4 separate regions of the Homo sapiens genome follow, and all the other regions are linked to region 3. Evidence: fine-mapped expression QTL. A gene starts in region 3. Each other region holds a variant in brackets. All regions are shown on one strand. Distances are from middle to middle. Region 1 overlaps DAPP1 (dual adaptor of phosphotyrosine and 3-phosphoinositides 1). Region 2 overlaps DAPP1 (dual adaptor of phosphotyrosine and 3-phosphoinositides 1). Region 3 holds the start of DAPP1 (dual adaptor of phosphotyrosine and 3-phosphoinositides 1). Region 4 has its middle 120 kb from the start of H2AZ1-DT.

Region 1 (8,110 bases), 21 kb after region 3:
ATCCATGTTAATGTGTGCAGGACTCACAACTGGCCTATGCCGTATGCCTATTAGTCATACTATTTTAAACATGAGGAACCAAAGCTCAGATTGGTTAAGTAACATGTCCAAGGCCATACAGCTAGTAAGAGGTACCACCTGGATTGGGACCCAGGCAAAGCAACCCCCGGGGCCACAATCCTAATCATCACATTTCATGCCTCTATGACATCGTTTAAAAGAATGTGAATGACCTGTTATTGGAGAAAAGAAAGATGGTGCAGAGCAATATGCCTAGAAAATAAAAATAATAAATAATGCTCGTATGTTTGTAGAATCAGGAGTGGAGGTACACATCCAATGCCTCTAAGTGTGTAGACTATCTCTTAAGAGGAAGCACAGGAAAATGGTTACCAAGGTGTCCTCTAGGAAAGGAACAGGGAGCCTGAGGGCCCAGGGTGAAGAAAACATGTTTTGCTATGTCTCCTTTTGGACAATTTGAATTTTTTTTTTTTTACCATAGATATATATTACCTTTTCTAAAACACAAATATCATTTTGAATCTCCTTGAGCATTCCCTAGCTCTTCAGATACTTGTCAGGCTGAAACAGTACTTGGTGGCATTTACTTCATACTATAATTCCTTCCATCCAGCTTCGTTTCACTCATGACAATAGCCTTTAGTATTATAGCACAGAGGTTTCGCCGTGAAAAGGTACCACACTTGAAAAAGAGTGTGAGAGACCAAAAAAAGAAGGAAATTGGTCAAAGCCTATTCTTATGGTATTTTGACTTGGACTTTAAAAACCAATTCTGATTACAAAGCAACACTGTATTAGTTTGCTAGGGCTGCTATAACAAAGAACCACAGCCTGGGCAGCTGACTATAAGAAATCGATTGCCTCACAGTTCTGAAGGCTCAAAGTCGGAAATCAAGGTGTCAACAGGATTGGTTCCTTCCGAGGGCCGTGAGGGAGAATCTGTTCCAGGCCTCTTCCTGTGGCTTGGAAGTGACTGTCATGTTCATGCGCTGTTCTCCCTGTAGGCAAATCTATCTCCTGATTTTCCCTTTTTACAAGAGGACACCAGTCATATTGAATTAGGGCCCACCCTAATGACCTCATTTTTTTTTTTTTTGAGATGGAATTGCACTCTGTTACCCAGGCTGGAGTGCAATGGCATGATCTTGGCTCACTGCAACCTCCGTCCCCCAGGTTCAAGTGATTCTCCTGCCTCAGCCTCCCGAGTAGCTGGGATTATAGGTGCCTGCCACCATGCCAGGCTAATTTTTGTGTTTTTAATGGAGACGGGGTGTCACCATGTTGGCCGGGCCGGTCTCGAACCCCTGACCTCAAGTGATCCGCCTGCCTTGGCCTCCCAAAGTGCTGGGATTACAGGTGTGAGTCACCACACCCAGCCATGACCTCATTTTAACTTGGTAAAGACCCTGTCTCCAAACAAGGTCACATTTTGAGGTACTGAGAGGTTAGCACTTCAACATAAGAACTTTCAGGACACAATTCAACCCATGTCACGCTACTATTAGTCAACTCTGTGCTCTCCTTTCAGCCCCACCCAGGGATTTCCTTGTCCTAATGTTGGGGCTGAGAGCTGGGTCTCTGGGCTACTTATCTTGAAGAATGTTGCTAGGTAATCTTTGCAAGGAAAAGCCAGTGCAGGGGGAGTCATGCCATGGTTTGGCCTGAGTGAAAGCGCTGTTCCCTCCTTTCTAGGTGGTATCACGGCAACCTCACACGCCATGCTGCTGAAGCTCTTCTCCTCTCAAATGGATGTGACGGCAGCTACCTTCTGAGGGACAGCAATGAGACCACCGGGCTGTACTCTCTCTCTGTGAGGTAAGGTGCTTCAGGGCTCTACGACTTCAGCATGGGCTCCTCTGTCACTTACTGACTTTATCATCACTCAAATTGCCAGACAGCAAAACTTCCCAATTCCTGTTGGACCACCAGGTTAAAGGATTCCAAACTCTAAATGATGAGGGTGTAAAACAACATTCCTGCTCCATTCATTAGCAGGAAAAAAATTGTTAGAGCTGGAGGAGACATGAGGAATTATTTGATGGAAACCTTTCATGGGACTGTTGAAGAATCTGAAACCCAAAGCGGTGGAATGTCTGGTACCTCAAAAATCAACAATAGAAACAGTGCCAGAATCCAAATTCCTGACACCTGGCTCAGTGTCCTTTTCACTATTCTTTGATTTCTCTGTAAATGCAGAATGATTTATGACTGTACGGCTTTCATAGTCACAACCTCAAGGAGGCAATATACATGTTTAAAATTTTTCCTATAGTGGGCTAGCTTTTCATATTGAGTCTCTATTTCTCCCAAATGGTAAGAAAGTTAATCCAGTCCCCACCAGGTTCATACAGCCAAATGCAGTCATTGTCCAGATCTTTCAGGTCCTCCCCACCTCACACCCCCTTCTTTCTGTCTGGTGCCCCAGATCAGAGAGGCTGACCAAGCTTCTGGTAGTCAGGGGAGGCGGCTGGTTCTCAGTCGCATCTGACACTCTGGCTTCCACTGACATGTAGCAAGTATTCTTGGGTTTTTAGGCGCTTCTCCATGGATTAGGCAGGGGATGTAAGGACTCCATGAAATTTCCCTCAGCCACCCACCCATTAAGCTCAAACTGTTATTGTGTTACTGTTCTGATGGCACCTCCATATACCCTGGAGAGTCACTCTTCCCTTCATAGTGCAGTTCCTCAAGCTAATCTGGCCTCAGAGGCTCTCTCACTTCTTTCCCAGTCTACACGGTCACTACTGGTCACTAACTCAGTAGCAGCATTCACATTGTCTCTTTGGGCTCTGGGCCTTGCTTCTATATTCATTTTCTATGCTACATAACAAATTATCAAAAACTTAGGGACTTAAAGCAACGCAACTGGATTATCTCACAGTTTCTGGCTGGATTCTCTGTCCAGGATCCTACCAGGCTGAAATAAAGGTGTTGGAGAAGCTTGTGGCTCTGATCTGGTATTTAGTGTCTTCTTCCTTCATTTTCTCCTTTCCTCTTCATCCTTTTTCATCCATTCCCTTGCTGCCGTAGAACTGAGGTCCTCCTTTTCCTTTTAGCTGTCAGCCAGGGGCCATTCTCAACTCCTAGACGCCACCCACAGTTCTTTGCCACATGGCACCCATGGCTGTTTACCACATGGGTGTTTGCTTTCTTGCATGCCAGCCAGAACACATCTCCCTGACTTTTTCTTCTGTGAGCAGCCAGAGAAAACTCTGTTTTACAGGGCTCATGTGATTAGTTCAGGCCCACTCAGATAATGTCCATATCTTAACATCAACTGACTTGGGACTTTATGACCTGCTAAATCCCTTCCCAGTAGCATGTAGACTAGTTTTTGATTGAATAATTGGGATAAAGTGTGTGTACTCCAGGGGCTGGGATTTGGGATCATCTTAGAATGCTGCCTGCCACAACTCCCATTCCTGGAACAGTGAAAATCTACAGGCCTACTTGAAGTGGGTGGGTGTGCGAAACAGGTAGAGGGTGATGGGGTAAGTAGGGGTCACAGAGGAAAAACAAGCATATTCATTAACATTTCTCATGTCACCCTGTTATATTTTATTTATAAATTTTCTGAATAACATAGATGAAAAAATTATTAATCCAAGATGGAATTCTGTTTGAGTGGCAACAAGAATTGTGCTTTCTCTGCTCAACAGCAAATGTTAAAAGTTCATCTAATGGTTAAGTTGTAGATGCTTTATTGCACACATCAGAGGTCCTCAACCTTTTTGGCACCAGGGACAATTTTGCCACAGACCGGAGCAGCGGCAGATGGTTTTGGGATGATTCAAGTGCATTACATTTATTGTGTGTTTTATTTTTGTTATTATTACACTGTAATGTATAATGAAATAATTATACAACTCACCATCATTCAGAATCAGTGGGAGCCCTGAACTTGTTTTCCTGC[T/A]ACTAGATGGTCCCATCTGGGGGTGATGGGAGACAGTGACAGTTCGTCAGGCATTAGATTAACATCAGAGGCACACAGCCTAGATCCCTTGCATGTGCAGTTCACAATAGGGTTTGCACTCCTATGAGAATCTATTGCCTCTACTGATCTGATAGGAGGTGGAGCTCATTGAGAATGCAAACAATGGGGAGCAACTATAAATAAAAATGAGCTTCGCTAGCTCACCCATCACTCGTTTTCTTGCTACGTGGCTGGCAGGGGGATGGATGGGGACCCCTGGCATGAATCTTCCAAAAATGAAAAGTTAATTAACTTTTCACCTATGTATGTCTCATCTGAGCAATTAGATCATAAGCTTTTTATAAATCAATGACATACATATTTCATATACATAAAAAATAAAGAATAAATTATTGATTTTCATTGCAAGCACTAGAGAATGCTTATTAAAAAAATGACCAGCAGAGGTGACAAAAACCACAGACTAATTCAGGAGAATGACTATTTTTGTTTTATGAACAAATATTCACTTATTTGTTCATTCTTTTAATGATGAATATTTGAAAGCATTTATTCTGCACCAGCCACTTTGGTACGTGTTGTAGAACAGTGGTCCCCAACCTTTTTGGCACCAGGGGCTGGTTTTGTGGAAAATGCGGGTTCAGGATGAAACTGTTCCACCTCAGATCATCAGGTATTAGATTCTCATGAGGAGTGTGCCACCTAGATCCTTCACATGTGCAGTTCCCAATAGGGTTCAGGCTCCTGAGACTCTAATGCCATCACTGATCTGACAGGAGGCAGAGCTCAGGCAGTAATGCTTGCTCACCCACTGCTCACCTCCTGCTGTGCGGCCTGGTTCCTAACAGGTACCCAGTCTGCAGCCCCAGGATAGGGGATCCCTGCTGTAGAAGATTGAAATACCTTATTTTGGGGAATTACAGCCTCACAGAGCCAAAAAGACCACATACAAGTAACATACTACAAAGTAGAGGTTGACAAATAACATAAAAGAAAGCAAGATAAGTGTTTAGGTGGTTCAGAAGGGAAAAAGCAGTTAACTTAAGCTGGAATTATCATGTAATACTTGACAGAGGAGGTGGTACTTGAACTGCACCTTAATGAGTGGCTGGGATTTCTACCAGCAGAGACAAAGAGAAAGACCGTTTCAGGAAAAAGGAACAGTATGAACTAAGGGACAGAAGTGGAAACTCCTTGAAGAGCAGTAGATCCAGTTGGACTAGGGCAGCTGTTCTAAAGGTGTGGTCCCCAGACCAGGTGTGTCACCTAAGAACATGCTAGGAATGCACAGTCTCAGGCCCCACCTTGGATCTACCGAATCTCAATCTGCAGGGGTGGAGGTGGAGGTGGCAGCAAGCTGGGTTCTCACAAGCCCATCAGATGATTCTGAAGCATGCTAACATGGTAGCATGGGCTGCACTGAGAGTAATAGCAGGAAGTGAGGCTAGAAAGATAGAATGGGATCAAATAAAGTGGAGAGGCAGATATATATATATAGATATATATAGATATCTATAGATATATATAGATTAGATATCTATAGATATATATATAGATATATATATATTGTTTAATACTCTGCCTCATTTCAAAAATGAAGTGGAAAATGACAATGTAGGAAATTTGATATTTTATTCAGTAGGCAGTGGAACATGCACGGGAGGAAAAGGGCTAGGCTCACGTAACTAATCAAGCGACAGAGCTGAATTCTGATTGACTCCCAAACAAGCAAGGGAGAAAAGCCCAAGGCAGAGGAGAGTGTGGTGAGGGTGTCATATGTCATTTCTATCATTCCTATTCTCTGCCCTTCTTAAACTCATGCCCCTTAGCAGCATAATGTTCAAGGACTCTTTTGGTAAGTCTAGGAGTAGATAGGGAGAACAGTCTCTTGTCTTCCATTAGAGTGAAAAGTTGAGGCTGGGCGTGGTGGCTAACGCCTGTAATCTCAACACTTTGGGAAGCCGAGGCAGGAGGATCACCTGAGGTCAGGAGTTCAAGACAAGCCTGGCCAACATGGCAAAACCCAGTCTTTACTAAATATACAAAAATTAGCCAGGCATCGTGGCAGACACCTATAATCCCAGATACTCAGGAGGCTGAGGCCAGAGAATCACTTGAATCCAGGAGGCGGAGGTTGCAGTGAGCCTAGATCATGCCACTGCACTCCAGCCTGGGGGACAGAGCAAGACTCTGTCTCAAAATAGTAAATAAATAAATGAATTAATTAATTAATAAAAGTTGAAAAGAGCAAACTCTGCCAAAAGAAACTAGTGATGCTATTTAAAACTGTCAGTGGTTTCAATGATTGCCTAATTCTCAGTTCTTATAAAGGGTTAATAGTGATGCTAACATCTGAGATCATATTTCCCTTCAACAAGATATTTATTTGTTAAATAATATTAAATACTTCTTTTTCCCTTTTAGGGCCAAAGATTCTGTTAAACACTTTCATGTTGAATATACTGGATATTCATTTAAATTTGGCTTTAATGAATTCTCATCTTTGAAGGATTTTGTCAAGCATTTTGCAAATCAGCCTTTGATTGGAAGCGAGACAGGTAAGCTATGAGCAGACACTTGACTTATGAAATAATGTTTCGGGATGGAGGAGAGACAAGGCAGATTTCAATTTAAGAATGTCATTGTTGTCATTTATATTTCAGCATTATCTTGAAGAGAAAACAATGTATTTTGTATAAAGTAGATATTTTCTCAGAATGTGTTACTTAATGGATTGATTAAAAGCACACAATTTCTTTAAAATGGGCTCACCATTTTAAAATAACATATACAATACACACAAAAAGAACAAAGGTAAAAATGACTTTTTGATTACTCATAATTTCAGATATAGGCAGTTTGCATATGAGTGAGACCCACAGAAGTAAATTTTGAGCATTTTAAAAACTAAAATTCCCACTTAAATGTTCACAGAGATCACTGAATATTGAAAATATTAACTAGGAAGCACTCTCCTAAGTTATAAAATTCTGTTTCTATTGTCACGGTTTTTTAAATAAGATTTTAAGCTAGACTTAACTATGGCTGGAAAAGTTTGAATTTTCCTGTTTGAATGGTTAGAGAATTAAACCAGAAAAAAATTCATGTGTAAAGAAAAAAAACACAAAAAACAGTCTATCTTGGCACTTGAATTATCTAAGATTGAACATCTTGTTTATTTATATTATTTTAATGAAGTAAAATATCATCCCTGTATTTGTGATATAGAATCACAACACTTTTGTCCTAAATAATGATAAATCTTAGTTAATCAAAGACTAGGAAATTCCAAGAACCTGCGGCACAAGAGGAACTCAAGACTTAATAACACAACCAGTTACCATGAGTTTGTACATACGTGTTTTCTTGGCAAACTTGCCAGTGGGCTTTCTGTTAACTTCAGTGTGATGGGAAGAGATGGCATCATTGGCTTCTGTCTTTTCTGCTATTTATGTGGTGTGGGTAGTCCCTGATGTGACTCACACAGTGTCTAGTATACATGAAGTGCACAGCGGAAACTAGAAAATAGTTGCTCTGCTTTATACTGACCACACCAAGCCCAAGAAAGAATAACCCAAACTACGAAATGAAGTTATAACCTTTTTTTCCTTCTTTCTCCTGGTATAAATTCTCCCAATCAACCCTGAAAATTACTTCACCATTTAACAAGCAGTTGTTCCCATGAACAAATGGCCAGTGGAGGTGTATTTATTTCCACTGCTACCTTGGCCTTGGCAAGCATTTCAGTTTCTCAAATCCCTACACTTCAGTCTCCTTTCCTGCTTGCATCCAATTCCACACTTGATTTTGTTCAGTTATTGGTCACTGGCCATGTAGAGGAGATTTTTAAAGCCAGGGTTTTGTTTTGTGTACCTCTAATTTTTGTATTTCATATCCGCCAGGTCCTGGCCCACTGCAGGGCATTTTGGGTGAATAAATAAATGAATACATGGATAACTATGAGTAAGAACTCTTTGTAGTCTTCAAAGCCACTAGAGTTGTCATTTTTCTACTTTCTCTTTTTCTTCCAACCAAAGACAGCTCCCTTCTTTTAAATTCTTCTCCTAGACTCTATTTTCAACTTCTTTGATCATTCCCTGTGCTCCTTCCTGGGCCTTCTCCAAGTTAGGGAAAAGATACATATTCTGCCTACTG
Region 2 (8,110 bases), 40 kb after region 3:
CATGGCTTTCATAAAGCCTTCCTGGAAAACTTCCAGTTACTACTTAAGATCTAAATCAAATGTCACCTCCTTTATGAAAGCTGTCCTGAATCCTTTCATGGAAAGGTTCTTCAAGCAGTCTGGGGATGATTATCATGCTTTGCTCACACGGCTGCCATTGGTCTCATCACCCTGTTCATTTAAACGACCATATCTGTTACCAGTTCTGAGCACCAGGAGGCCAAGGAACATCTCCATCATGCTTTATATCTCAGTGTCCAGCTTAAGTGCCTTATACCTAATTGGTATTTGATAACTGTTGAGATAATGAGCGAGGGAATACATGAAAAAAACAAAAGACTTTCCAATCCAGCCACAGTTATCCAGTTAGCATTTGGACCTTCCTTCTGGGAACACTGTTCGATTATATATTTTTCATCTTCATTCAGGCACTCTGATGGTTCTAAAACATCCCTACCCAAGAAAAGTGGAAGAACCCTCCATTTATGAATCTGTCCGGGTTCACACAGCAATGCAGACAGGAAGAACAGAAGATGACCTTGTGCCCACAGCACCTTCTGTAAGTGACCTTCAACGTGACCACAAGCTCTCTCCCTGTCTAAAATCAATCAAGTTCAATAAAAGTTAATAAGAGTGTATTTGTTCACATAAAAATTCTAGCTTGGAATATAAAACTTGGAAAGGAATGTGAGATTTGAAGCCTATGACTCAGTTCATCTGGTCCTGGGTAGATCATAAAAATTACAATGCAGCCAGACATGGTGGTTCATGCCTGTAATCCCAACATTTTGGGAGGCCAAGGTAAGAGAATTGCTTGAGCCCAGGAGTTGGAGACCAGCCTGGGCAACATAAACATCTCTACAACAAACTTTAAAAAATATTAGCTGGGCATGGTGGCATGCACCTGTAGTCCCAGCTACTCAGGAGGCTAAGGTGGAAGGATTACTTGAGTCAAGGAGGTTGAGGCTGCAGTGAGCTGTGATTGTGCCACTGCACTCCAGTCTGGGTTACAGAGTGAGACCTTGTCTCAAAACGAACAAATGAAAGCAATGCAATAGTAATAGGATTTTAAATACTTCGAAAATGGAACTTAAATCTCTGTCCTTAGTTAACCAAACAACTTCAAAGTAGAATGGAAAAGAGAAGTTTGCATTCACATAGTTTTCTAAACTGTTTTCTCCTACAATTTTCTTATATTAAGAAAATATATTTTTTTAAATATTTCAACTATCTATGGAAGACAAATATTCTCCACCTTTACTATAAAAACTCAGGGTATTATTTTTTCTAGCTTTTTTTCCTTTACTGACTGAAGTTTACAGACAGAAAACACTTGTGCTTCTTTGCAACGTGAGCCATTGTTCAATTTCAGTGCAATTGGAGCACTCATTGTTTGTCCAAGAGTCCATTTATGTTTGTTCTGTGAACTGTGACTCTGCAGAGGTTCCTCTCCAACACCCTTTTCCCTTCATTATTCTGAAGGCCCTTCTATTTGTTGTCTCTTCCTTGTTTGCTGAATACTCCTGGTATAAGAAACCTCTATTTGGGCAGATGATAAAGAAGATAATACCCAAATAAATATCAAGAACTAATTCTGGATAGTAATCATGACACTTGAAAAATAATCACTTGAAGATATTCAGCTACAAATTATATTAAAATAAGTGTAACTTTCTATATCTGCAGTACTTTTCTCTACCCTTGACCAGAGAGATCTTTCTTAAAAAGAAGGCTTGCCACATGACCTCTGCTTTACATCCTTTGGTGATGCCTTTTGTGTTCATGGCCCACCTGGACCCTGCTTGCCTCTCTGTCTTCATCTCATGCTACTCCCACACTCACACTGTGAAACCTGTCTCTCTCAACATTGTGCTCTTTCTCCTCTCCCTACATCTGAAATGCTGCCAACACCATTGCTATCTACTCATCCCTCAAGACTGGTATCACGGATCATTATCTTCCAGGAAGCCTTTCTTCACCCCCACTAGCTTCTTTTACAATGCTCCTCTTCTGTGCTCCAGAGCACCCTCTGTTTGCCTTTATTCTAAAATTACCATGCTGTGGGCTAATTACCTTCACATCTCTCTGCCCTCCCCACCAGCCAGAAACATCTAAGTACATGAATCATTGCTTGTCCTTGCAGCTTTACAGCCTAGCCTGGCTCATGGCACATCTTACATATTCATTGCAGTGCTACATCTCCTCAGAAATAAAAATCCTGAAAATTGACTGAGAAAGTTATTTTGGCTTTGTTAGAAGTGGGGGAGAAGGCATCAAGAACTCAGAACTTGAGAAATTTAGGAGTGCAAGACAATAAATAGTCCAAAGGCAGAAAAGACCAAAGAACAAATCAAGATCTACTCTGCAACCAATTCTTGTTTTCCAGTTGTCCAGTCCCTTCATAATTTCCTCTTTACCCACCCTTACCCTTAATATAGATCACCAGTCACTTCAACATCTCTTTCATTTGCCCTGTTAGTTTAACTTCACATTCTCCTCTGCTACACTTCCCCTAAAGATCTCCACTCAAGGTCAAACAAACCATGTCCTATTAAGCGTGTTCTTTATCGGCAATAAAATGCAGATAATACCTAATTTGTGAGATTGGTGTGAGCAGAAGATATAGTATCCTTATGCAGAAATAAACCTCTTTAAAGCACATTCTGGAAACCTTGTTACTTACCTTCTTTTCTCACTCCAGCTATCAGATGGATTCACCTCTTTTAAAATGGAGTTTTTAAAATAGTGGTGAGTGATTGGTTGACAATGACTTGAACTCACACTATATAATGACAAGCTTATGAAGTTGATTGTACATCACTATGGACAAAAAAAATGTAAAGGTTTCCTAGAGGATCTGAAATGTTTCTCATTACTTCTCATTGGGGAATCATTGGTGACTGGACCAGTATAGCTGCTGGGGAAAGAGTTCTGGTCTGATCAGAATGCTCTTGTCCCTTATTGAACACAAGTTCTAAGCCTTCATTTGCTACCCCAAATGGCTACATGATGCTGCACCTCCATCTCCAGCCTGAGAGCCCTGAGGGTTTTCAAACTTCTGCATTTTCTTTTTGGGGTGTAGTTCTTGCTCAAGGTCTAGCAGTGGAGGAAGAGAATTAAAAGAACTTCTTGTTTGAAGCGAAAGTGAAAGATGCCCCACTGCCCAGAAATGCAGATGACTGTGTATAACTGTTTAACATCTTTTAGTAACTGCATTTGGGGAAATTGCTATTTATGTCTTATAAACAACATAGCATTGAGTTCCCATGATAGGATTAAATTTAATTAATTCATTTATTAAACAAACTTTTTTTTTTTAAAGTGCTTCCAATACACTCAGAACTGTTTTAAGCACTGGGAGTTTGGCAGTAATTTTGACAAAGGTCCTCCTCCCCTCACTGAGCTCACATTCTAGTGAAGATCACAGACAATAATCAATGCAGTAATCTGATACCAGACAGTAATACATCATGAAAAGAAAAAGTAGGATAAGGGGAGAAGAGGGAAGCAAGGGAGGCCTCTGTGAGGAG[G/A]AACCATTAGTAAGAGATTTCACTGAAGGGAAGGAGTGACTCATGTCAAGATGTGGAAAGAGTGCTGCAGGCAGAGGAAACAGTACAAAGGCCCTGGAGTGGAAACAAAATTGAGGTGCTTCAAAGGCTAGGAAGGTCAGAATTACGGGATGAAGTGAGCTAGAGGAAAAGTTGTAGAAGGTGAGATTATTGAGGTAATGAGGGGTCAGATCACATAAGGCAATGGAGTTTTCAAAGAGCAGCACCTCCCAGCTGAGCATTTAGAAATATGAGTGTTTCTGTTGGTGCATTGCTTTGCGGCACTACTATCATGCGTGAGTGTCAAGAGCCATGAAGAGTCTGACTTTACTCTGCTTGCAAGCTAACAAGTTAGCCTGCTGCAGTTTCATGTATGCTGATGGATGACACAAGACTTCTGGGTAAGCGTTGAAAAATAGTTTGCTATTCACAGGAAGAGCAACAGCCAGGATATCAGTATTTATGCTAATTCCCTGTGCTGAGCCGAAGTTCCCAAAGGGCAATATTGAAAGGGCCAGGTGATATCCACAATGGGTTGCCCTACAGGAGAGGAACCCTGAGCCTTGGGAACCCAAATCTTTTCTAATGATCAGTAGACATGTCTTTTGTTCTGAAGGGAAATATTTCTTTATTCCAAGGCTGCTTGTATAAGCATACTTTAAATATCAGTCTGCAGCAAAGAACTGTTAATGCCTTGCTCATAAGACATTTGGAACCTTGACAAGAGACCCGTGGAGATTATTTCCCAACAGTGATCAGGGGCTAACTATTCTTCAAAGAGTGGTAGAGAATTATCTTGCCCAAAATCTCAGTAGTACCTTTTGTACATAACATGAGAATTCTTTACCTTCTGAGCTTGTTTAAAAAAATTCTTGCAGATGGATTGAATGTGATACACGAAAGAAAGAGTAGCAGAGTCATGGCAGAGAAGCCCTGCTATTTACTGAGAAGGCTAACTCTGCAGGAGGGGTGGGTTGAGGGGATGAGAAAGAAGAGCTCTATTTTGGACATGTTAAATGAGAAATACCAATTAGTTGTCTTGGTAGAGATTGAGATTAATATAGTTCAAGTTCCTGACATAATAGGTCCTATCTAAAATGTTAGTTTCCTTAGCTTCCCTTTTGTGGTATTTGACGTTTTTAACAACTCCCTCCTTCTAAAAATTCTGTTTCCTTAGCTTTGGCAACATCTTTCTGTCTTTATTCCGTAATCTTTGACACATTTTATAGTTCCTCTTCTTGGATACTTTCCTTGCACGTTGCCCTTTTCCAGTATTTTGTTTTTGAAACTCTTCTCAGGTTTAACATTTTGTTGCTTATCCTTTCAGTCTTTTACTTGAAAAAAAAAAGTATATGTATGTATATACACACACACACACACACACACACACACACACACATAAAATAATGAGCTCTTCATTGTAGAGTTGTAATATTCTTGTTTAATTAACTATATATTTAAAATTTTTTTCATGTAATTACTTAGTTTTCTGGAACACCATTAAACAAATTCCATAATATTCCATTATTTGAGTATATCAATTTATTCAGTTAATCCACTATTATGTTTTAACATGCTTTTTTATTTGAAATAATGTCAAAGTTACAGAATAATTGCTAGAATAGTACACAGAACTTGGTTTTCCCCAAGTCGTTTGATAGTAAATTGCCTACATGATGCCCCATCACCCTGAATATTTCAGTGTGTATTTCCAAAAATAAGGGCATTTGCCTGCGTGACCAGATAGAGCCTTCCAAACTAGAAAATTAACATTGAGGCTGTGCCACTGTTTCATCCACAGATCTCATTCAAGCTTCACTAGTTTTCTCAGTAAGTTCCGTCAGAGTAAAAGATCCAGTCCTCAAGCACAAGTTGCACTTATCTGTCCTGTCTCTGGAAGATTCTTCACTTTGGAACACTTCCTCAGTTTTTCCTTAATTTCGTGACTTTGACACATCTGAAATTAAAGACCAGTTATTTTGTAAATAGTTTCCCAACTTTGGTTTATATGATATTGAATCATGATTAGATACAGGTTTTTTCATGTTGGCTACAAATACCACAAAAGTGATGCTTTGTTTGTGCTTCTCACTGTGTCTTCTCAGATGGAACACAATTGCAATCTGTCTCATAATGGTGTGTTTGATTACTTAAGTGGTGTCTGCCAGGTTTCTTCACTCTAAAGTCACCATATTCCCTTTGTTATTAAAAAATGTTTGGGGTGAGGTTATTTGAGACTATAAGAATATTCTGTTACTTATTAAATTTTTACTTGCCAATTTTAGCATTTACTGATGTGTCTTGGCTGTTTTAATCATTACTATGATTGTTACCAAACGATGACTCTCTGATTTTCTTATTCCTTTTTACATTCATTGGTTGTCATTCTACTGTAAGGAAAAGCTTTTTATTCTTCAAAATTTTCAATCATTTTTATATCAAATGGTTATAATCATGACTATCATTATTTATTTTGATCCTTCAAAATTTCCCTGATTTGGCCAGTCGGGGAAAGAGCCCTTTCAAGTGGTGTCTGTGTTCATATGACCTCAAAAAAAATTTTTTTTTTTTGGAGACAGTGTGTCACTCCGTCACTCTGTCTCCCAAGCTGGAGTGCAGTGGTGTGATCACGGCTCATGAAGCCTCGACCTCCTGGGTTCAGGTGACTCTCCCTCCTCAGCCTCCTGAGTAGCAGGGACTACAGGTGTGTACCACCACTCCTGGCTAATATTTGTATTTTCATTTTTTTATTTTTTTTTGTAGAGTCAAGGTTTCACCATTTTAACCAGGCTGGTATCGAACTCCTGGGTGCAAGCAATGCTCATGCTTCAGCCTCCCAAAGTGCTGGGATTATAGTTGTGAGCCTCCGTGCCTGGCCTGGCCTCAAAATTCTTTTAAGAACTTTCTTACTTTCTGAATAGCAAGATGATCCAGACTTATCTTGTTCTTTCTTTGTACCCAGCTCTAGAACCAGCTATTTCTCCAAGAAACTCTGCTCTTTTTCCACAGAATAGTACTCTAGAAATCGACATCTAGGTACTATGTGCTTATTGTTATCAGGATGTCACTCTCCCAGCCCACTCAGTGAGCAGAGCTGGGAAAATATGTATGTATATACATATGTACACATATATACTTTTACATCTGTATTTATCTGTCGATTCATTCATCGATCCATGAGTTCACAACAATGCTTCCAATACCACAAAGTTCATTCTAGTGTTTTCCCTTCTCCCACAGTGAGAAAATATGGATCTTATCATCCTCAGTACACTTATGTGGTGATCAATTGAATATAAGCAATCTCCCATTGCTGTTTCTACTACTCAACCCTTACCCCGACACTCCAACCACCCAGTCATGCTTCAATGCTCAGTTCCAGGCCACTGCTGCTCCCACCCTCACTACAGATGTCCACCTAGCCCAACTTGGCTCTGAAACTGTGCAGTAGCTGCCACCTCCACCCCTTCAGGCAGAAGCCCTCCACACCCTGCCAGGCTTCAATGCCTCGCACACAGCTGCTGCTGCCACTGTCACTGCCAGTGTCCACACAGAGGCTCCCTGTGCCCTACTTGGGCTCCACCACCCTGTACTAAGGTGCTTGAAAGCCCTCCACACACACATCAATGCCTGCCTTGCTTCACCTGAACTGTGTTGGCTACTGACTTCATTTAAGGCTGGCAGGCAAGTAGGTAGTAGGATGGCAGGAAGGACAGTCCTTTGTTTTTGAACATTTAGATGGTACCCCAATGGGGGCTCTTATAAACAGCTTTTCTGTTACAGTTCATAGATTTTTAAAGATAAATGTGCTCTATAATTATTTACTTTCTTACATCTGGAGACCCTGAATAAAATTAATAGTCTCATTGCTTTCCCATGCAGCCTTTGGCTTACCTATCAAAACCTTAGAAGAATACTACACTTATAGTACATTGTTTGGGTGGAGGTAAGATGGGATTATTCCCTAGCTTGATTTTAGTAAATAATTCTATCAGGATCTTTTATACAACAATTTACTCCTAGTTATTTTGCCTCTACAGATTTTAACCTGCAACAGCCCAAAATAATTACTTTTTGCCATTCCTATAACACCTGAATTCAACTGAGTCAATTCAATTTATTTAATGTTAAAATAAATCACACCAATTATGAGATATCAAATTCACCAATATTGATTAATATTATTTAAGTGAACATTTGGTTAGTTTATCCTTACTTTTATATCATAAGATTTTAAAAGAAGTGTTTGCTTATTTCCTGCTTTAACTCTTTTTATTGTGGTAGAGATGGTTGTTCCTCTTTTTATTTGGTTGGGAAAATTCACCTTGGAAAAAAATATTCTGGAAATTACCATAGAAAGAACCTTGGTGTCAACCAAATCACTTCCCAATTTTTGTTAATTTTGTTTCTTACTAAGACATATGATGACATCACATTTGAACAAAATATTCTACCACGAATTGAATTTCTTGTGGAATTTATGAAATGATAAATTTCTTGATGTTAAGCTACTTGTCTTATGCAAATTTCTGTTCACACAATTCTCCACCCTTATATTTCGT
Region 3 (8,110 bases):
TAGCCAGGTAATTCTTTATTGTGGGGGCTGTACTGCACACTAGGATATTCAGCATCACTGCACACTAAATGCCAGTAGGCTCCCCAGGTTGTGACAACTAACAATGAAAACCACCTCAAAAATGAGGACCCAATTGAGAACCACCATTTTAGGGGCTATGGATACTATATCAGTGAAGGTTCTCCAGAGAAACAAAACCAATAGTATGTATATATGTGGAGTGTGAGAGTGTGTGTGTGTGAGAGAGAGAGAGGGTGTGTGTGTGTGTGTGTGTGTGTGTGTGTGTGTGTGTGTGTGCGTTGTATAAAATAAGGAATTTCCTCACATAATTATGTAGGCTGGTAAGTCCAAGATCTGCAGGGTGGGCTCACAGGCTGGAGAACTAGTTCAAGTCCAAAGGCTGTCTACTATAGTACCAGGAAGAGTTGATGCTGCAAATGAAGACCAAATGCAGTCTACTGGAAAATTATGTTGCTCGGGGGAGGCTGGTCTTTTGGTTCTGTTCAAATTTTCAACTGGTTGGATGAGGTCCACCCACGTTATAGAGAGCAATCTGCTTTACTCAGAGCCTACCATTTAAATGTTAATTCACTCAAAAACACTCTTATAGAAACACCCCGAATAACATCTGACCAACTATCTGGGCAACCCGTGGTCTGGCCGAGTTGACACGTAAAAGTAACCATCAAAGATATAAGGTGATCAAGACCCTGGAAGTCCCTGCCTCTGGGAGCTCACATTCTAGGCATTGACCCAGATGATAGGCAAGTGTTTCAGTTATCTATCGCTGGCTGTATTAGTCCATTTTCATGCTGCTGATAAAGACATACCCAAGACTGGGCAATTTACAAAAGAAAGAGGTTTATTGGAATTACAGTTCCATATGGCTGGGGAGGCCTCACAATCATGGCAGAAGGCATGGAGGAGCAAGTCATCTTATGTGGATGGCAGCAGGCAAAGAGAGCGCTTGTTCAGGGAAACTCCCATTTTTAAAACCATCAGATCTCATGAGACCTATTCACTATCATGAGAACAGCAGGGGAAAGACCCACCCCATGATTCAGTTATTTCACACTGGGTCCTTCCCACAACATGTGGGAATTATGGGAGCTACAAGATGAGATTTGGGTGGGGACAAGGAGCCAAACCATATCACTGCCTAACAAACCATCCCAAGCTTCATGGCATCAAATAGCAAACATCTTATTAAGTGCATGTATTCTTTAGATCCAAAATTCAAACAGGGCATGGTTTGTCTCTCCTCTTTGATGTCTGGGGCCTCAGCTGGCAATATGCAAACCACTAGGAGAGAGTGATTTGAATGGCTGGAGGCTGGAATCATCTGGGGGCTTCTTCAATCAAGTCTGGCACCTGGACTAGAATGATTCAAGCTGGGATTATCTGGGACTGTTGACTGGAGCACACACATGAAGCATTCCACGTGGCTTGGGCTTCTAGGCATAACAATTATGTTCCTAAGGGGAACCCCTGAAAGTAACATTTGGAGAGTGAGCCTTCCAAGAGACCACAATAGAAACTGCAAGGCTTCTTCTGACCTAGCCTCAGAAGTGATCCAGTGTCACTTCCACCACATTTTATTGGTCACAAGTGAATCACAGAGGCCAGGCCAGATTCAAAGGAGGGGAGTTAGGTGCTGCCTCTTGACAGGGAGCAGCAAGGTCACATTGCAGAAGAGCATGTGGGTTGGGAGATGTATGTGTGTATGTATGTATGTATGTATGTATGTATCTATCTATCTATCTATCTATCTATCTATTTATCTATCATCTATCTACTATCTATCCATCAAGAGAATTTGCCACAAGTAAGCAAATATTCTATATAATTTCAGGTAGAGCTAAAAACAGAAGTGGTATTTAGACTGTTACAGATACAAAGGATCTTCTGGGGTGATAAAAACCATTCTAAAATTGTATTGCAATGATGGTTGCACGACTCTGCAAATTTACTCAAAATTATTGTACACCTAAGGAAAATGAACATTATGATATACAAATTGTACCTCAATATACCTGTTAAATATACAACTAGCATGCCACAGGCACTGAAGGATAAGAACAGACATGATGCTGGCCTTGGTTCCAAAACAAGGTTTTTTGTTTTTTGTTTTTTGTTTTTTTTGAGACGAAGTCTCACTCTGCTGCCCAGGCTGGAATGTAGTGGCATGATCTCAGCTCACTGCAAGCTCTGCCTTCCGGGTTCACGCCATTCTCCTGTCTCAGCTTCCTGAGTGGCTGGGATTACAGGCGTCCACCACCATGCCCGGCTAATTTTTTGAATTTTTAGTAGAGACAGGGTTTCACTGTATTAGCCAGGATGGTCTCGATCTCCTGACCTGGTGATCCACCCGCCTCGGCCTCCCAAAGTGCTGGGGTTATAGGCATGAGCCACCACGCCCGGCCCAGAACAAGATTCTAAATCCCCTTTCAGTTACACAGCAATAGATGTCCCGGGAGGGATGGGCTCCAGCATTTTGTTGAAACTATCTAGCAAGCCTCCTGCAGCTGTTACCACTGCAAAACTAAGTGTGTAGTTAGTGGAGTGGGCGGGGTGGTAGGGATACTGTGAAAAATTGAGTAAATGACAAAGTGGGACAATGACATCAAAGGAGAGGGCAACAGACAGGACAGCAACATGAGGAAGGGCAAAAGGCAGGAAGATTCAGCCAGAAAAGCAGGACGATCTTAGAAAATTCTGCTACTTGTACTTCCAAAAAAGTTAAGAAAAAGAACAACCAGAATTTGCTAAAAATGGGAATGAAATAGATACTAAAACACCAAATAAAGGGCTCTAGAGAGGGAACAGGAACTCTAGTGCCCAGGCTGTTCCCCTGTCACTGCTGTATGCATATTCAGTATCTCCCTGGCCTGCACTGGCCTCTCTGTTCAAGTGGGCCCTGTCCTTCTCTGTGAGCAAACTGTAGCCAAAAGAATTTAAGTGCTCATTTAGTCAGTTATATATGTATTATCAGAGCTTAGTCTTCAGCAGACTGCCTCCAGACACTCAGGAACTTCCCACTGGCAACCAGTGTTACCCGGGTCTCACCGATCCCGGGTGAACAGTGGTAATAGGGAGGAAGATGAAGGATAGAACCATTGCACAGCAGCCTTTTGCAATCATCTAGTCCTTTAGGAACAGTTCTGCTGTGCTGTTTAGTCCTCAGGCCACACTGTGAGAACAAGTTACAGAGCACTGTGGTGAGTGCTGAATGAGTCAGGGAGTAGAGATAGGAAGAGAGAGAGAGAAAGGGAGAGGGAGAGAGAGACCTGTAGGTACATAGAAAAGGCAGGAAGCAACATATGTCCTTGACTCATTTGATACTGCACTTTGTTCCACTTCCCAAGGATTCAGTCACTGCAATTTACCTTTAGCATTCCAGGCAGATAGAATCCTGCTCTACATATGAATCTGGGCACAAAGCCATGCAGGTGTGAGTAAGCCCATGAAGGAAGTGGCACTCAAAGACTCTAGGAGTTCAGGCCAGGTGCAGTGGCTCATGCCTATAAGCCCAGCACTTTGGGAGGCCGAGGTGAGTGTATCACCTGAGGGTGAAACCCTGTCTCTATAAAAACACAAAAATTAGCAGAGCATGATGACGGGTGCCTGTAATACCAGCTACTTGGGAGGCTGAGGCAGAAGAATCACTTGAACCCTGGGAGGTGGAGGTTGCAGTGATCTCAGGTCATGCCATTACACTCCAGACTGAGTGACAGAGCGAGACTGTCTCAAAAAAAAAAAAAAAAAAAGACTCCAGGAGTTCTAATATGCCCCATTAGGTGGGCACCAGAATGGCCCCTTGTAACTTTTTCCTACCTTCTCCTCTCCTAATTCTTTTTCTGTGGAGGAAACAATAATTGTCTCTGAATCATCCCTATTCGGAGCATTGAGGATATATTAGAAGGTCTGGGTAAACAAGCAGAAATATTGCAAAAGTGCTAAAACATCAAACTTCAGGGTCGAATTTGTGGTTTGCTTCTGCTTTTTCTATCCACTCTAAAGGTGTTCCTGATAGAGAAGCTTCCTCAGTGTTCCCTGTGTTGGTGTGTAAGACAGAAAGAAGATGGGGTAAAAGAGTGCACGCATCCTCCACTACAAACCAGAGGCTGATAGCATTAGGGAGAAGCTAGGGTTTGGCCTCACACAAGCAGTTTGCACTGTTGTCCAATCCCAGGTGGGGTGGTTGCCTCTTCATTTCCTTTGATAGCAACCGCCTGTTGCGTGATGTAGTGTGGGTGTCCTCAGAGGTAGCTACCTAAGTTTGCATACTTCCTGACTGACAGAACACTCCTGCCAGTGCCTCCAGGCCAGGGTGGTGGTGTTGGTGGGAGGAGTAAGTAACCAAGTTTCACTTCCTTGCCTTGGAGACTCAGAGCCATAGCAGGCTGCTGTCTCACAGAGCGAGAAGGTGTCAGGAGCAGCCCAGTTGTGTCTCTCTCTCTACCTCTGTGAAGGGCGCGAATGGGCAGAGCAGAACTTCTAGAAGGGAAGATGAGCACCCAGGATCCCTCAGATCTGTGGAGCAGATCCGATGGAGAGGCTGAGCTGCTCCAGGACTTGGGGTAAGGCAGCAGATCTCCTTTCAAAGTACCTAGTGGGTGGACATTGACTCCGCACTCCCACCTGCATGCTTTGATTAATGACTATCTTCAGTGCCTTGTTGCCCTCTGCCACCTCAACCATTTATTTTTTTCCACTTTATTCATTTGTATCTGTTAAGTATCTTCTTGTCTGGGGCTAATTCCATTGGAAAAGCAGGCATTATTTTTCTAGATGTGAAAACAAGTTGGTTGAGAAAATAGGGAAAAAAATCAAATGTTGGACATTCTTTGAGAAGAGGGACAGAATTGGGATATAGAGGTGATGTTGCCTGGCTTCCTTGATGTTGCTCTGGTTTATGAATAAATGCGCTGTTCAAGAGTTTCTAGCACTGACCCAGGGACAGTAAAAGGACTGTGTTTCTGGTAAGATAAACAGAAAGCTTACCCTACTGTAAGGGAGAGGGACTTTTTCAAAAGACAGAGAATGAGGAAGTTCCTGCAACAGTCTCGCTTGTATATTTCTTTCTCCTGATACTGCATTTGTGAGATTTGATATCGTATGTATGTCCAGAGAGCCAACTTTGAGCCTTTCAGTACCAACAATCCAGGAAGAGGATAAAATTTCTGCTTCAAACAGGTAAGCATAGGTAGGTGGAGTCATTGGAGCTCTGTCTTTAAGAAGGGACCCAGATGACAACTCATCCGGGTATTTAATAAGAAACAAGTATTACACAAGAGAGGAATTGGGGATTTCCCAGAGAAACTGCCTAATGCACTGGGAATATCCCAATGAAGGTGGCTTTGACACCTGTGCATGAGGAGAGGCAAAACCTTTACCTTCTGCCTGGACAAATAGCTCTAACTCTTCATAGCAATCCAATGACATAGGAGCTGTTGTCATCTTCATCTTACAAAGGATGAAAACAAGTACCAAACAGGTTTGAATAACTTGCTTGCTAGTCACACATCAATTACATAGCAAAGCTGGGCATCCAACCTACCACAGGCTATGTCCGAAACCAAAGAAAAACCAAAATAGAGTTGAAATCTCTCTGTGTTAAGGCTGCAGAGATTGTATCTTTTTATGTTGTATTACTGTAAAAGTTTATTAATAATTCCTGTCTTTAGATTATAAAACTGAGGTCTCGGAATTGAACTCTACTTTCATTTGGCAAATCAGATAAAACACCTGGAATTTTCATTAAAGAAAACTCCCCTTATTAGGAAGCCAGAGCTCTAGAATCTCTCTATCCCTCTAGATTGAATCCCCAAACAGAAGAGGTAAAAGGCCCTTCTGTGAGCATCCAGCACAGGTGTCACCAAGTCCAAAAGCTAAAGCTGAACTGTGGCCCTCAGTGTCTTATTGAACTATTAAGTTACAATGCTTTACATGTTCTGTTAACTGTATTCCCAGCCCACTGTAATAGAAAACCCCAAAGGAGGAGATAGAGGAATATATTCAATTCTGGTCCTTTAGTTAAACAAACAATCCTAGAACCCAGAGTCTATGGTTGAGTACTGTGGGAACACACTTAGATGACAAAGATGAATTAGATGCTGTCTCTGTGCCCCACCATGATGTCAACAGCAAGAAGCAACTACAGGTGAAACCCACGGGTGGAATAGGACTGTGTCTTTCCTCCATGTGCAAAGAATAGACATTGAATACAAAACTGAGTCACACCACTTCCCTGCAAAAAAAAAAGGGTACATTCATGGCCAGATTTCCCTATTTCAGAAGGCGTGAACAATTAATAAACATGAGGATGATTTCTATAGCAATGGGCAACCTGCAGTTATCTGGGAAAACTGCTCTACAGTCCTGGTTCTTGACCTTGGCTGTGCTCTGGAACATCTTGACACCCAAACCACAGACTTGACAAATGATTTCAGTATCTCTGGGGATGGGTGTTTTCTTGTCAAACTCTCCAAGTAATTCCAAAGTGAGACCCTAGGTTGATGATCACTGCATAGAATATGTATCTACCAAATGCATTAGGTAAATGTGGTCTTGTTTTTCATTTTAAGTCTGTTGGGTGTGTACTTGAATCTTAAAATTACTAATAAATGTTGATATTTTGTTTGTTGGTTTAGGGGCATTTCGATTAGCAACTTTATTGAGGTTATTTTACATATCATAAAATATACCCGTTTCAAGTGTACAATTCAATACTTTTGACTAACTTTACAGAGTGATACAACCATCACCATAAATCAGTTTTAGGACATTTCTGTTCTCCCAAAAAGAACCCTCAGATGTATGGCTTATTTAAGCATACTCAACAGTGTGCTGGAAAAACAGCTGGGAAGAGTTGGGGTGTGGAGAAAGCCCTGATTTCAAGAATTTGCCTAATTCCCTGGTATAAATACTCCCACTATAGACAATTTCAAGCTGCCAACAATTTAACATCATCGAATTGAATATTTAATAATCAACTTGTGCCAGTACTTGCTCCTGCAGCACCTCACTGATACATTTTTTATAGATAACAATTTGAGAACTCTTGACAATGACTTGTTGCCTCTGCCAGAATACTGAACATAACTCGAACATTATAATGACTTTTTCTTTGAACCTTTAACCACTGGCGAGATAGAATCTCTACCAAACCTTCTGATTAATTTAGTTTCCAAAGACCTCCTTAAAAACAAAATGATTTAATGTAATGGATAGATAAAAGGTAGCTGGTTTTAATGACTTAATTTTTCAATTATTTTTAAGAGGTTATTTGAGTAGTTAGATAAATCCTTACGTTTATGTTTTTGATAGACATAAACAGATAAGTTAGTGGTTAAATTACAGAAATAGCAGAAGTCTTTGTTCTTGGGCCTCTGTTTTTTTCAGGCTCTGGAATATGTAAATCCTGTAAATTGAGCCCTGAACTGCAGCAAATCCATCACTTGCCTTTCCAGGACATATACAACTTGCTCAGAGTACAGGTTTATTATTTTCTAAAATACCTAAATCAAGCAACACAGTGCTTTTCCATGTCTCATTTATAGAGTGTCAGCCTAAAATCATTAATTTTCTTTCATCTAAAATACATTAATGTGTCCAGAAGCAAAGGAGAAATAAAACCATCTTAAATTGTTGCTCAGCTTCGCTTACACTTCTCAGGGGAGGGTATGGGCTTAGGGGGAAGAGAGGTGTGGGGAGGGCAAGAAGTGAGGGTGTGGAGAATCAGGGGAGAGGAAGGAGGTGGACCATGAACGAGGAGATGGGTCAGGCTGTTTGCTGCTTGCAAAATGAAAATATGGCAAAATAAAACAAGTAACAAATACTGGAGATATCACCTAAGTAACAAACTGGTAAAGAATAGCTAGTTAAATTACTGAAAATTCCAGCAATTCTTTGGCTTTAACAAAGGTTACTATACTATTTCTACATATAGCTATATATATGTATAAACACAAAAGAAATAACAAAATGAAAGTGTTTTAGCATACTTTAAAATTAAATATTCAAATGATCTAGTCAGTTGTAACTCCAAGTGAGAAACATAATAAACGTTCTCTTTTTTAAATACTTTCTCAAATCGAAAGTTGTATAA
Region 4 (8,110 bases), 250 kb after region 3:
GTTAATAAAAATACATGTCCTATCCTTATCACTTACCTTTTACTGCCATCCTGTGGCAAATTTATTTTCTAGATAAAAATCCATTTGCAAAACCACGTTTTTTATTTTTATCATGGATCACGGTTTCAGATTTTATCAGTCCTCAGTTAACACAGGCACACCATAATACACACATATTTAGCAGCATTTTGCTTTACTGGCATGTTCCACAATGCAGTAGCATACAGTTTATAATTGTGAGATTTCACAAAACATTTTTCTAAAGGACTCTCCTCAATTATCTCCTTATTTCTTTCCTCAGTGGGTTTTCAGTGGATGCTTGGGCAGTAACAGTTTATCATAGCTTCAGTGAGACTTCCTTGGTTGTCTCTCTGTATTTGGAATACTTACAGATACTTTCCGCTGGAACCCAGATTTGGATTTCCTTTCTTGGATGTCCTCTCTTCTGATCTTCTAGACTTCTACTAAGTTCCAGCATTCTTATTGGCGAGATAAAAGGCACAAGCAAGATCAGGCAGGGTGCTTATGACAGAATGTGCTCATGTGTCGCCTGGTTTTGACCATCTCAGGTCAGCATCTCTGGATAAGCAGGGTCCACATGGGGCTCGGGGAGATAGCGGGCAATAGTGTCCTTGTTTGGAGTTTGACGTAGCCTCTGTGACTAGGAGGCTGACAGCAGGCAGGTTTCACAAGGGTAAGTTTTGTTCATGCTGTCTACCCTAAACCATTAGGACCTAGATTCTATTATAGTGGAAAATAATAAGTCTGAAAAATAATAACAACAATGCTAATGGCTAATCCTTTGGAGTCCTAATTTATATGCCATGCCATGTTCTAAACACTTTACATGCATTATTTCATATTTCAAACTATCCTATGAGTAGAGGCCATTATTATTCTTATTTTACAAATTAAAAAAAAAAAAGCCCCGAGTCTTACAGTGACAAGATGCCTTGTTTAAGTTTACTCAGCTGTGGACTGGAGGGCTGGTGGACCCAATGAGTGAGTGAATAAAGTGTTAGGTTGGATGCCCAGTGTATGTACTTCAGTTTTTTCTTCCTTCTAAATCATTTCCTTACAGCTCAAGGAATCTTCCAGAAGTTGCATTTTCTTTAATTTTTCTTATACCTCATTCAATATAACTTTCTCTTATTTGTTTGGAAAGAAAACCTAGGGATCATGAGATGTCCTTCATTTATCCTGGGCCAGGTACTAGTAGTAAAGTTGTACTGTTTTTCTACTGAAAAAAGTACATCTCCAGTCTTTGACAGCACTTGGACTGATAATCAACTTGGAAGCAAAAAATGTTTCCCTAGACCAAAGAGAGAGTCCCATTTTCTTTCTTTCTTTCCTTCACTCCTTCCCTCCCTCCTTCCCTCCCTCCTTGCCTCTCTCCTTGCCTCCCTCCTTCCCTTCTCTCTGTCTCTGTCTCTCTCTCTCTCTCTCTCCCTCCCTCTCTTTCTTTTTCTCTCTTTCTTTATTTCTGTTTTTTATTTTTTTGACAAGGTCTCACTCTGTCAGCCAGGCTGGAGTGCAGTGGTGCGATCATGGCTCACTGCAGCCTAGACCTCCCGGGCCCAAGCAATCTTCCCATCTCAGCTTTCCAAGTAGCTGGGACTACAGGCATGCATCATCATGTCTGGCTAAGTTTTTTATATTTGGTAGAGACAGGTTTCACTATGTTGCCCAGGTTGGTCTCAAACTCCTGGGCTCAAATGATTCTTCCGCCTCGGCCTCCCAAAGTGCCAGGAGTCCTATACCTAAATCATTCACTGATAACCATAATAGGGGACCCCTCTAGACAATTTTTGGTCAAAACATCATGCTAAAGTAAACTAACCACAGAATTTATTTTAATGTACATTTATTTTCTGCTTTTGGTTTTGTGGAAAATTCAAGTGTTTAATTTCCTGCCACTTGGCTGTTAACATGACACTCTTATACTGGTAACAGACACTGTTGTGCAGGATTGGATGGGGTTTAGTATGTCCAAATGATATTTCATCATTCTAGGATTATGTTCAGTCTCTTTCTCTAATGCATGCTGGACACAACATGACCTTGTTTGCTGGTTCTGATTTTCCAAAGGACCTTTGACATTCTTTCAGAATAAAGGTTCCCTATTGAAATTTTAGCTACATATCTTATTCTGCATTTTTATTATGCTGCTTTAACTACTGTCCCATAAATTGATCTTCATCAAACTTTTTTTTCTCATTCATGATTCAACTTATTTCATGGTGCTCGGAGGGTCTGTCCATATGTAATAATAAACAAAATAGCCTTATATTTTATATCTGTAATGATAAATATTTATTGCATGTTTACTATATGCCAGGCACTGTTCTAAGTGCTTTATGTGTCTGTCTCATTTAATATTCACAACCCTATAAGATTTTTACTATTATCGTCTCCAATCATAAAATACTTCATACTTCCTCCATAGAGGAGAAGAGTGATGCAAGCATGGAGAAATGAATCAATTCACCCAAAGTCACATAGTTTGAAGCAGCAGAAGAAATGTATGTGTAATAAATATTAATTGCTTTTGAAATTTTATATCCTAAATTAAAGCTATTTTAAAACAAATCAAAAGAAGAAATATAATCTTAATCCCTTATATCTCATTCCACATCTGGTTTTGATCACTTGTATGTCAACAGAATCGTTTTTCTGTATCAGATTCTCCCCTGGCCACCAGCTTAATAAGGGATTGTATTAGTCCGTTTTCATGCTGCTGATAAACACATATTGGAGACTGGGCAATTTACAAAGGAAAGAGGTTTAATGGAGAACTCACAATTTCCACGTGGCTGGGGAAGCCTCACGAAGATGGTGGAAGGCAAGGAGGAGCAAGTCCCATCTTACTTGGATGGCGGCAAGCAAAGAGAGAGCTTGTGCAGAGAAACTCCCTTTTTTAAAACCAGCAGATCTCGTGAGACCCATTCACTATCACAAGAACAGCATGGGAAATACCCGCCCCCAGGGTTCAATCATCTACCACCAGGTCCTTCCCACAGATGCGGGAATTATGGGAGCTACAAGATGAGATTTGGGTAGGGACACAGAACCAACCATATCAGGGACCATTGAAGGGGCACTGGCAGCACAATAATGAGACAAAACCCACAGTCTGCATCCACTTCCCATCTCTCATAATTTTGGAATCCGGTTCATTTTAGCTGTTTTACTGACACACACAGAGGTATATCTACCCTGGCCTCTAAGGGTGGGCTGGTCAACTGAGAGTGTCTGTTCCTGGTCACAGCTCCACTCCTACCCCTCCCATGCACCCTTGTTACCCAGTTGCATCTAATTCTAGAGAATTGGCTCCATCTCTTGTTTATCATTCTGTTCCTGCTTTTGGGATTTACATTTGGTTTCTCTGGTACTTGACTTCCAGCTTCTTTGTAGGACCATGTGACGGACTTTCATCCTGGGAAAGGCTAGCATTACATTTAAGAGTGAGGTTTCTGGAATCAAGCTGCTGGAGTTCACTGCCCAGATCTGCCACTCACCACCACGTGATCTTGGGCAAATCCAATAAAAATAGCTAAAAACCTCAGTTTCCTTATCTGTAAAATGGGAATAATTAAATGGAAATTGTGAGATTTCATGTAAAGCACTTACAGTGCCTGACAGATTGCACTCACTCACTCACTCACCCATTTATTCAGCAAGTATTCACTGAGAGCTTTTTTTTTTTTTTTTTTTTTTTGAGACAGTGTCTTGCTCTGTCGCCCAGGCTGGAGTGCAGTGGTGCAATCTCTGCTCACTGCAACCTCTGCGTTCTGGGTTCAAGTGATTCTCCTGCCTCAGCCTCTCAAGTAGCTGGGATTACAGGCGCACACCATGGCACGCGGCTAATTTTTGTATTTTTAGTGGAGAAGGGGTTTCACCCTGTTGGCCAGGCTGGTCTCGAACGCCTGACCTTAGGTGATCAGCCCGCCTCGGCCTCCCAAAGTGTTGAGATTACAGGCGTGAGCCACCGCGCCCAGCCCACTGAGGGCCTCTTATGTGCCAGGCACTGTTCTACTTCTGAGACCACTAAAATGAACCAAACAGACAAAAATCTCCACTTTTTTGGAGCGTACATTTGGGTGTGTGTATGTATGTGTGTGAGTGTGTGTGTGTGTGTGTATGTATAATAGCAGAAAATAAGTTAACTAAGAACATTTATATTATATTAAATGATGATAAGGGCTAAGAGGAAAAATAAGGCAAAAAAAAGGACTGGAAAATGTTGGAGGGCTGGTCTATAATTTTAACTACGCTAGTTAAAGGGGCCTCATTAAGATATTTGAGTAAAGACTAAATGGGATGAGTGAGCCAGCTAGTCAGTTTTCTCAGGACACAGAATACCAGGCTGAAGGAACAATGGGTGCAAAAATCCTGAGGCAGCAAGATCTGGTGGATTAAGAAAACAGAAGGAAGACAAGTCTCACTGAAGCAGAATAACGGGATTTGCTGAGGCATCACATGTAGGATGTGAGAGAAGGAGAGCAGTCAAGAAAGACACCAACTTCTTTGTCTAAACTATAGTCAGTATGTAATTGTCATTTACTGTCATTTACTGAGGTGGGCAGGCTGGTGAGAGAAGTGAGTTTGGGGCTAGGGTAGGGGGATGGTTAATGTGGTTAAGGACATCAACCTCAGATTTGGACATACCAGATGCCAGTTAATCACCTTCACCTAAGCTAACGTATCAAGAAGCCAGTTGGATATGGAAGTCTGGAGTTCAGGGGAAAGGTCTGGCTAAAACAGAAATTAGTAGCCTGTAGCTAGTATTGAAAGTTATGAGATTTGGGTAGGGACACAGACACAACCATATCAGGGACCATTGAAGGGGCGCTGGCAGCATAATAATAAGACAAACCCCACAGTTTGCATCCTCTGACAATGGGATCATCAGAGGAATTTAGTTGGAAAAGAGGAAATCCAATGTTTAGAAGTCAGGGAGATAAGTAAGT[A/G]TCCCGTAAATGGTGGCTGCTAGTGTTACCATCACAATTGCTTCCCCAGCTCCCCCTACTTGAGGTCCACCCATCAATCTAGCTCACGGTCAATCCCAGCTTCCACCAGCTCTCCATGTTTCCTCTAAGAGGCCCTTTGGAAAAACTCACCCTCTGCTGTGTCTTTCAGTTTCTCTAGAGGACGGTATTGTAGTTGAAAACATCATTTCCAGCTATGGTCATCCAATTGGGATCACATTGCCTTTTCCTGACAGCACCGGCCATCCTGGGTAGAATCAATTGCACCCTCCTGCTTTTAGCACATTGCTGTCCTCTTAGAAAAGTTCCCTTCAATCCCCTACCTTTCACTGGTCACCACTCCACCCACACTCCAAACACTGGGAAGCCAGCAGTCTGCTGCCTCAACACCCAGCAATCTGGATCTGACTGCTTCTTTCTGCCTCTGGCTGCACAGAGACCAAGTCTCAGGGAGCTAACAATGCCTTTCTCTTTGACCAGGGGCAATTCTTTCTCTCCTTTTCATTTAAGGCTTTTGGACTTTTCTTGAAGATTTGAACTCTCTGGCTTAACACATCTCGCTATGGTTTTGTTTGTTTTTAACTTTTAGTTGGAAACTTCACAACATAAAGAGTATATATTATATTTTGTACAATTTAAATAATATTATAAAATGAATGCTTGCATATCCATACCCATACCCATCTTAAGGAAAAGAACACTCCAGTGGCTCTGAAATCCCCTGTGTGCCCTGCCTTAATTCTGTTCATTTTCCTCCCCACCAGACGCTAAGTTGTTCCTTTGTAGCTTTGTCATTACATCACTCAGAATTTCATCGGGAAAGAAGACTCACTATAAAAGATTTAAGATAGGGGTTATTATAGGACTTACACCTTATACCTCCTATACCTTTCAGTGAAGATCTGAAAGGGGAAGTGCGAAAAATGGAGTAAAAACCACTAACCAGCCCTCCTGAAGCACCATGTTGATGGGTAAGTCGGAATTTCAAGGAGGAGCTAAGAATCCAAGTGCATCTAGCAACGGGAGTGGGGCCACAAAGAGGGAGATGGAAAAGAATCCTACGGGAAGTGATTGCCACTGTAGCTGCCCCCTCTGTAGGTCTACTGTTGGTCAGCAGGCCCCCAGTGAGGAAGAAGGGCTGGGAGCTGAGTTGAGCAGAGGAAGTATAAGCTGCAACCTCCTGGCACTTCTGCATGTCTGTCACCACATTTGATGGCACAGATCTTTTGAGAAAATTGGATGCTGCTTCACTCTGCTTCCAATATCTTGTTCAAGTTCCTCTTTTGACCAAGTTTTACTTTAATCTGCACAGGGTAGAAAACTCTGGGATATATAGTTCCTAGCTTAGTCAGGTTGTCAATAGAATAAACCAGCACTGCCATCTATAAATAAATCCTTAGGCAGTATATTGTTTAGTTTTGGCTTTATTTTATCATAATAAGAAATATGCAGCATATTTTTTTCTATCACTTGCTTGTATCTTTTTAAATTATTGTTAACATAAAATTTGGGGAATCCTTCCTGTTGTTTCATTCACTTTTAATTACTGTATATGATATTCCAAAATATAAATATATAATTTATCTATATAGAATTAGATATTTGTTTTTTCCCCCAAGTATTGCTTTTATGAGTAATGTTTCTTCTGAGTATTGTATGTCTTTTCATGCACTTGTGCAAGGCTGTCTTTAATACATACATATAGGAGAGAAATTGCTGAGGAGTAGGGTATGCTATATATACTTTATTATATATTGTCAAACTGTTTTCAAAGGGGCTTGTGCTGATACACTCCCACTAGCAGACTAAAAGTGTTTCTGTTGCTAAACATCCTCATATGAAGATACTTGACAGCATATATTTTAATATTTGCAAAATCAGGGCAGTATAAATACCATTTGATTTTGGTTTCAATTTGTTTCCCTAATTACTAATGAGACTAGACATCTTTTTTTGTGTGTATTCACCATAAGTATTTTCTCTTCCCTGAAATGTCATCTTTTGCCCTTTTTAATAGTTCTTCATACATTTTAGATAATGACTTTTTGTTGGTTATTTGTATTGCAAATATTCTCTTGCAGTTTATGGTTCATGACCAGTATAAGACCTTTCTGTCTTGCTGTTCTCTTCCATTCATCTACTTACCTATCTCTGTTCATTTTCACGCTGGTTTGTCTTGTCGTGTTCTTTATTCTGTCTTTTGATGAACAGAAAGCCCAAATTTAGTATAATTAAATGTGGCTATTTCCTCCCCTTATGGTAACTTTGGGTCTTACATAAAGCATCCTTGTTTTCCTCCAGGTCATAAAGATATGCCTGGTATTGCCTTCTAAAATTGTTCTGGTTTTGCCTTTTACATTGAAGTCTTTAGTCCTTGTTATGGTTTGAATGTTTGCCCCCTCCAAAACTCATGTTGAAATTTAATTGCTATCGTAAGAGTATTGAGAAGTAAGACTTTGAAGAGGTATTAGACAAGAAGAGCTCCACCCTCATTGGTGGGATTGGTTCGCTTATAAAATGGCAAGTTAGGCTCCCTCTTTCTCTCTTACTCTCTCTTACTCTCCCACCTTCTGCCATGGATGATGCAGCAAGGAAGCCCTGGCAAGATGCCAACACCTGGATTTTCCAGTCTCCAAAACTGTGAGCCAATACATTTGTTTCTTATAAATTACCCAGTCGGTGGTATTCTATAGCAGCACAAAATGGACTAACATAGTCCTTAGTTTCCCACAGATACGTAATACATATTTATAATAGAGTTTTTGTATATGCATGGGTTTGTTTCTGGCCTGTAATCTGTTACATTGGTTTTGATATCTGCAAAGGAAAATGTCTCCATCTTGTTCCTCTTTAGCATTGTCTTGGTACTTCTCATGTAGAAAAACCATACGCTTTTCAACATAAATTTTAGAATCAAATTGTCAAGTTCCCTAAAAAAATTGGTGGTAATTTTGATTGGAATTGGGGAACAATGGAAATCTTTACAAACTGCTGATTTGTTCCCAAGAGATATGTTCTTCCTGCTCATAAGTTTATGGCTGCCATTTGAAGACTCTATCACCCTTTTTGGCAGCTAATTTTGGCCATGTGTGGTAGAGTACTTGTAAATAGCTGCAATTATT

The links.
Region 1: its variant is fine-mapped to the expression of DAPP1 in whole blood (TOPMed, PIP above 0.99).
Region 2: its variant is fine-mapped to the expression of DAPP1 in whole blood (TOPMed, PIP 0.94).
Region 4: its variant is fine-mapped to the expression of DAPP1 in lung (GTEx, PIP 0.93).

The regions. Positions count from the first base shown.
Region 1 is chr4:99,833,910-99,842,019 of GRCh38, forward strand. It overlaps DAPP1 (dual adaptor of phosphotyrosine and 3-phosphoinositides 1), which reads left to right. Exons shown (of 9, transcript NM_014395.3): 2 at 1,714-1,836; 3 at 6,380-6,513. Among named protein-coding and RNA genes, the nearest start is that of DAPP1, 21 kb to the left of the region's middle. The variant T/A (reference allele first, on the strand shown) is at 3,935.
Region 2 is chr4:99,852,790-99,860,899 of GRCh38, forward strand. It overlaps DAPP1 (dual adaptor of phosphotyrosine and 3-phosphoinositides 1), which reads left to right. Exons shown (of 9, transcript NM_014395.3): 4 at 429-559. Among named protein-coding and RNA genes, the nearest start is that of LAMTOR3, 38 kb to the right of the region's middle. The variant G/A (reference allele first, on the strand shown) is at 3,531.
Region 3 is chr4:99,812,435-99,820,544 of GRCh38, forward strand. It overlaps DAPP1 (dual adaptor of phosphotyrosine and 3-phosphoinositides 1), which reads left to right and starts at 4,393. Exons shown (of 9, transcript NM_014395.3): 1 at 4,393-4,580. The coding sequence starts at 4,480.
Region 4 is chr4:100,063,488-100,071,597 of GRCh38, forward strand. No RefSeq gene overlaps it. Among named protein-coding and RNA genes, the nearest start is that of H2AZ1-DT, 120 kb to the left of the region's middle. The variant A/G (reference allele first, on the strand shown) is at 4,971.